Linked DNA regions of Homo sapiens. The protein of the gene in region 1 purifies or fractionates together with the protein of each later gene. This does not show direct contact. Each region holds a gene or a part of one and is shown in the gene's direction. Other genes may lie near its edges.

Region 1 (3,657 bases):
CACGCACACACACGGTTGCTCATACACCAGGGGCAGGACACTAAAGAAGGGAGCGTAGCCTTCCTTCAAGCATGATTTCTTGACCTCACCTTTGTCTCTTGGTGTACTGGCAAAAACCATATCAGATACTCTGAACCCTGAACAGGGATCTTCATGCTTCATTATTTCAGGTCCTTTTGCTGTTATTAGCCTGATGATTGGTGGTGTAGCTGTTCGATTAGTACCAGATGATATAGTCATTCCAGGAGGAGTAAATGCAACCAATGGCACAGAGGCCAGAGATGCCTTGAGAGTGAAAGTCGCCATGTCTGTGACCTTACTTTCAGGAATCATTCAGGTAAGGCTCAAAGATGGGGAAATGGACTGTCTCGTTTGTTAACCTAACAAGTATCTACTGAGTGCTCTTGGCTGGTCTTACTACACGGTGGATGGGGTCAGCCAGAAAAACCCCAGAGCTCTGGGAGTAACTGCAGACCAACTGCATGCCATATTCACAACTATGAGTGACGAGCAAGCAAGCTTCAGGTGGGTGTTTTAAAGATCCCAAAAGCAAGACAAGTTTGACACGGCAGGATTGGTTAGTGCTGGGAGAGGACATTCCTCTCTGCTTGGAAGAAACAGCCAGTGATCATGATCATGCACTTTAGTCTACATGATGAAGCATGCCCCCAGCTCAATGAGAGACAGGGAAGGCATTAGTGTGGTCAGCGCACTGTGGGGCACCAAGCCACTCCAGACCTTCCATTGTTTTCTGTATAACCAGTGGTTGATTTTCTAGCTACTTACCCACTTGAGGTACAAGTTTGCAGTGTTAGAAAATGGTCCAGAGGCTGGGCGCGGTGGCTCACACCTTTAATCCCAGCACTTTGGGAGGCTGAGGCAGGCGAATCACAAGGTCAGGAGTTCGAGACCACCCTGGGCAACATAGTGAAACCCCGTGTCTACTAAAAATACAAAAATTAGCCGGACATGGTGGCACACACCTTTAGTCCCAGCTACTCAGGAGGCTGAGGCAGGAGAATCGCTTGAACCCGGGAGGCAGAGGTTGCAGTGAGCTGAGACTGTGCCACTGCCTGGGTGACAGAGCAAGACTCCATCTCAAAAAAAAAAGAAAATGGTCAAGAAAGAACTTGTATATTTGCTGTGGGTCATAACTTCCTGACCTATCATGTGATTCATTTGTTTCTTTGTCATTAAAAAAAAATAGTTTTGCCTAGGTGTCTGTAGGTTTGGATTTGTGGCCATATATCTCACAGAGCCTCTGGTCCGTGGGTTTACCACCGCAGCAGCTGTGCATGTCTTCACCTCCATGTTAAAATATCTGTTTGGAGTTAAAACAAAGCGGTACAGTGGAATCTTTTCCGTGGTGTATGTAAGTAAGAAACTACCTGACGTTCTGGTACTTTTCTCTTTATTCCCCCCAACCTTCTCTTCTGTATCTCTTTTTACTTTCAAGACTCATTTTTCTTTTTCTCCAGTAATTTCCATAAAAAGGGAAAAATTCATTTATTCTAAGGTTTTCTGAAAAGAGTGTTACAAAGAGAACTAAACCTTAAAATCTCTGTTATTAATATGTGATACTGCCTACTTCACAAGGAATTTTTTGCTAGGTCTTTATTTGGTGACTGCACCATCACTCTAGGTAAAGAGAGAGCTTTTTCTTACAACTAAATCATGATCTTTTTGGAAACTAACAAATAATTTAAAGGCATGAAGGTAGAACATTTCTCTCTCAAAAACTGCTAATTAAGGCCGGGCGTGGTGGCTTATGCCTGTAATCCCAGCACTTTGAAAGGGCTAGATGGGCGGATCACGAGGTCAGGAGATCGAGACTATCCTGGCTAACAAGTGAAACCCCGTCTCTACTAAAAATAGAAAAAAATTAGCCAGGTGTGGTGGCGGGCACCTGTGATCCCAGCTACTCAGGAGGCTGAGACAGGAGAATGGCGTGAACCCGGGAGGTGGAGCTTGTAGTGACCCGAGATCCCATCACTGCACTCCAGCCTGAGCGACAGAGCAAGACTCTGTCTCAAAAAAAAAACAAAACCTGCTAGTTCAAACTGGCAAAAAATAAGTAAGGCTATAAAAGATTTAACTAACATGAATCTTTTAATTATATAGACCCCTTACCAAACACAGAGAAAATATAAATTATTTGCAAGCACTTAAGGAACAATGGTAATAACTGATCATGTTGAAATCGATCATGTGAAACTGATCACAAATTCTAAAAATTCAATGTTTTTTCACACAGTGCAATATAATAAAAAAATCAAAAACTAAACATAGCTTTAAAACTCCCATATATTTAGAAACCAAAAAACATTTCTAAATGACCCATGAATAAAGAGGGAATTAGGAAATAATTAGAATTAATTGACAGTAGAAGTACTACATATCAAAACCTCTGAGATGCTGTTAAAGCTATCCTTGAAAAGAGAGGCCTGTTGCCTTTGTAGGTATTTATGTGCCAGACACTGCTAGGTGCCAAGATGCAGCTGTGAGCTAAGAAGATACAGGCCTTGCCCTCTGGAGCTTTCAGTACAGTGGGAAGATTGTAAACCATTAATCGCATACATGTGTAGTCAATTACAATTTGTGTTGAGTGCTATGAAGAAGAAGTACCAGCTGCTCTGAAAGTTAAATAGGGAGACCTTTAGATTAGGGGTCTAGGAAAGGCACTTTGACATTTAAGTTGAGTCCCTGACTGATAAAAATGGAATCAGGCTTTAGGAATATTCTCTAAATAACAAAATTCTTAGTTTCCCATAATAGCTATTATCATACTTCTTACTCTGAGACTTGTCGAAATGCCTTGTCACAAAGGAAATAAAACATACTGAGTACTCTAGGCATCGATAGGAAAGGGTGCATGTTGTGGGCTGAGTGGGAAGTCTACTTTATTGGGTTTCAAATGAGAACTGACTATATTTGAGGTGCCCAGTTGGTAACCCTAGGATATAATTAAGTGGATTTGTTCTCTAGTTCTCCTAGGTTCCTTTCCCAAACATCAGCACTCTTGACTTCAAAGTCCTGCTAACAATAATTTCTCTCTCTTTGAGCTCCTAAAAGCTTTTCAATGTATTTACCTTTGGAGTACTTTGCTATCAACCCTTAATTCTTTCCAATTGCTCAGGACTCAGCTTCAGGGTTCCTTTTCTGGATTTTATAATATTACATTGAGACATCAGCATATGATAAGAATAATTGTTTGATAAGAATAACTATAAGGCTGGGCACAGTGGCTCACACCTGTAATCCCAGAACTTTGGGAGGCCGAGGCAGGCAGATGACTTGAGGTCAGGAGTTCGAGACCAGCCTGACCAACATGGTGAAACTCCGTGTCTACTAAAAATACAAAAATTAGCTGGGTGTGGCGGCAGGCACCTGTAATCCCAGCTACTCAGGAGGCTGAGGCAGGAGAATTGCTTGAACCTGGGAGGCAGAGGTTGCAGTGAGCCAAGATCATGCCACTGCACTGCAGCCTGGGCAACAGAGCAAGACTGTGTCTCAAAAATAAATAAATAAATAAATAACAACTATAAAAAGAAAAGAGTAACAACTATAAAGTTGTAGACTGGGTAAAAATGCCTCCTAATTGGTAGAAGCTACAAAGAGAGATTTCAGCCTTGGAACTTTCCACTAGAAATATCCAAT
Region 2 (3,554 bases), on another chromosome or scaffold:
AGATATGATTATATAAATATAAAATCCATAAGAATATAAATATTTAGAATTAATAAAAGGCAAAGTTGTTGGATATAAAGTCAGTATAAAAATCAATTGTATTTACATATGAGAGGAAACAAAACTTACTTATTTTGCACAGATATGATTATACAAATATAAAATCCACAAGAATCTAGAAATAAATGTTTAGAATTAATAAAAGGTAGGCAAGGTTGTTGGATAGAAAGTCAGTATAAAAATCAATTGTATTTATATATATATAAACAGTAAAATTTAGAAAAAGATGCCATAGCATGAAAAAACATTAAGTACTTAAGAATCTAGCAAGTGCTATGCAAGACCTCTCTGACATTTAAAAAACTTTTTTGAGAGATATTAAAGTAGCCCTGATAAGTGGAGCGATAAACTATCACTGGATTAGAGGATACAGTAAACAGGTAATCGACCGCAGTTCCAATGTAATTGCAGTCAAAATCCCAAGCATTTTTTATAGTACTTGTTAAGCTGACTCTGAAACATACAGAGGAACAGAAAGAGCAAAAAAGAGACAAGATATTCTTGAACAACAACAAAAATGGGTGATGTGCCCCTCCAGGTATCAGACTGTAAAGAGTGAGACTATATCTTAGTGCTGTAGTTATCTAGACCAGTGTTACAGAATTTGAGAAACAGACCCAAGAATATATGGACTTTAACATACCACAGAAGAGGCATTGCACATCAATAGTATGAAGATAGACTTTTCAGTAAAGGTGGTTGGACAATTGGATGTCCCTATGGGAAAAAAAAATTTCCCAGATTACCATTATTCCATACACAAATCAACTCCAGATTTATTAAAAACCTAGATGTGAAACCAAAACTAAGAAGTCTTTTGAATATAATATGGCAGAGTGTCTCTGTGGCCTCAGTGTAGAACTTTTTAAAAAGGCCATAAAAAGGCTAAGGAAAGGATTCATATATTCAGCTTCACTGAAGTGAAGTAACTTTTTATCAAAAGATAACATAAGGATAATGACAAGACAAACCACAAATTGGAAAAAGATACTTGCAGACATTACACAGTATTGAATATTCACAATACATAGAGAACTGTAGCGGGGGAAAAATTGTATGAAAGATTTAAGTACTATACAGAAGGAGAAATCTAAATGGCCAACCAACAGAAATATATTCAGCATTGTTAGTAATTGGAAATACAAATTAAAATCTGAGATATAGTTACACTGTAAGATTGGCAAAAATAAAAACATGTGATGCACCAAGCCTTGTTGCTGTGGAATGGAGGCTTACTCACTTCTGTGCAAGAGTAAGTTGGTACAAGCCAGTTGGAAAAACAGTTTGGTATTAACTAATGAAGATGTGCCCTGTGACACAACAGTGAGACTCCTAGCTATAGACCTTACGTGAGACACTCAACAGAAGTATTCACAGGAGCATCGTTTGTATAGTAAAAGCCAGAAACGTATCAACAGGACCGTGAATGACTTGTGCACAAGCCCAGCCACTCTTGAAGCTGACTCTTACAATGTTAGTCGACTGAGAGAAGCAAAAGACAAAAGAATATATGATTCCATGTATATAAACTTCATAAACAGGAGAAACTGTAATAGGTGGTGAATTTGTAGAACAAATGCCTTGAGTTTATCTTTTAAGAAAACGTGTTGCTTTTGAAATACTAGCATGCAAACATAAAGTCATGTTCTTACACTGCAAAGTAATTGTCATAAATCCTAAGTAATACAAATTTCTATTACCATGTAATCAGCTACAAGGTCCTATTACTACCATTCTGAGTAGTAGTCAAAGCAAGGTAAAAACACGTTTTAAAAAAAATATGTATCTATTACTTTCTAGGGTTTCTCACATTCTAACATTTTCCTTTTTTGTTTTTCTTTTAAAGAAAGGGTGGATTTTTTGTGGATCTCTTTGTAAGAGTATCTAACCAAGTTGCAGTTAACATGTACAAGCAGTTGGGCTACAGTGTATATAGGACGGTCATAGAGTACTATTCGGCCAGCAACGGGGAGCCTGATGAGGACGCTTATGGTAAGCTCCCTTCCATGGCAGTATCCCCAAGAAGTCGAAACAGTTACATTCTTTCTACAGATTGTAGTATTTGATTATTTTAATAAATGTAGAATATTTGACTTTAAAATTTAAATTTCCCTCAACCTACCTTTATCAACCTATTAGTAGTAGTAATTAACTTACCTATTAACTAACCAATGGTTAATTTCTGTACCTTACTGTTTCACTCTGTTACATACATATTATTTTGCTAACAAGAAAACGTGTATTGTGAGCTGAATACTGGGTGAGGTCTGGTTAGCATCTGGTACACTTGGCAATTGGGAGACATTTATAAATACATTTTGCTTAGAATATGGTGAAGTGGGGGTAGGGATAAAACCTCTTATGGGAACTTTACCTATACACTTTACATTTGATATAATACATTTTTTGGGTGTTTATATTAAACTTTGCTTCTTTACAGATATGAGGAAAGCACTTTCCAGGGATACTGAGAAGAAATCCATCATACCATTACCTCATCCTGTGAGGCCTGAAGACATTGAATAACCCTGGGCAGTGGTTCTTAGGCAGATACTCTAGATGCTTTATGGACAATATTATTTTCATTGGATGATTCTGGAGCTCTATTAGGAGAAAAGTAATCATTTTAGGTCTTAAAGACTTCAAGAAAATACAGGTTATCAATTTATTTTAAATCTCATTGTTTCCAGTTAGCAATATCATACCTATTAAAGCTGTTCATTGTAACAAAATTCAATCAAAAAGGCAGCTAGGTCAGAAGGAAACATACCACTCTCATGGTTCATAGTATTCACTGTATGTATGCTAGGGAAAAGACTTGCTCCAGTCTCCTCCTCAGTTCTGTGCCTGAGAACCACTGCTGCATATATTTGTTTTTAAATTTTGTATTGAACTGTTAATTGAAGCTTTAAAAGCATATATGAAATGTATAAATCTAAGATGTATAATACATTATTGACTCTATGAATGTTTTCTGAAGTTTGTTAGTCATTTGTAAAACTAAATCAGATTGTAATCCCAGTACTTTGGGAGGCCAAGGCAGGCTGATTGCTTGAGGTCAGGAGTTTGAGACCAGCCTGGCCAAAATCTATACTAAAAAAAATACAAAAATTAGCTGGGCATCCCAGCTATGCAGAAGCTGAAGCACAAGAATTGCTTGAACCCTGGAGGTGGAGGTTGCAGTGAGCTGAGATCGTCCCACTGCACTCCAGCCCGGGCAACAGAGTAAGACCCTGCCTCAAGAAAAAAAAAAAAAAAAAAAATCAGGATTGTGAAAGGTCATCATCATTTAAGATACGTTTAATTAAATTGTGACTTCCATACGTAGTATTTTAAAAATGCACACTTGAAGCAATCACTGTCCAGCATACTTAAGAAGCTCCCTTCTTATCGTGTAGTAAATTCTTCCCAGTCACCTGCGTTCATACCATTATACTGTTTGTTTGTTAGTCCTAGATCTTTTCTCCTCTTCACAATGCTTTGCTTAAATCCTG

Evidence for each region. Proteins that work in one complex are often made in the same cells at the same time.
Region 2: the proteins of SLC26A5 (region 1) and NAA20 purify together in Homo sapiens (affinity purification with mass spectrometry; one large-scale study listed by BioGRID and IntAct). This does not show direct contact.

What each region holds. Positions count from the first base shown.
Region 1 is NC_000007.14:103,408,100-103,411,756, reverse strand, and holds part of SLC26A5 (prestin), read left to right. Parts: intron 1-170; coding exon 171-337; intron 338-1,207; coding exon 1,208-1,372; intron 1,373-3,657. UniProt on the Homo sapiens protein: Voltage-sensitive motor protein that drives outer hair cell (OHC) electromotility (eM) and participates in sound amplification in the hearing organ.
Region 2 is NC_000020.11:20,030,602-20,034,155, forward strand, and holds the end of NAA20 (N-alpha-acetyltransferase 20), read left to right. Parts: intron 1-1,906; coding exon 1,907-2,052; intron 2,053-2,500; coding exon 2,501-2,586; 3' UTR 2,587-3,054; downstream 3,055-3,554. UniProt on the Homo sapiens protein: Catalytic subunit of the NatB complex which catalyzes acetylation of the N-terminal methionine residues of peptides beginning with Met-Asp, Met-Glu, Met-Asn and Met-Gln. Proteins with cell cycle functions are overrepresented in the pool of NatB substrates.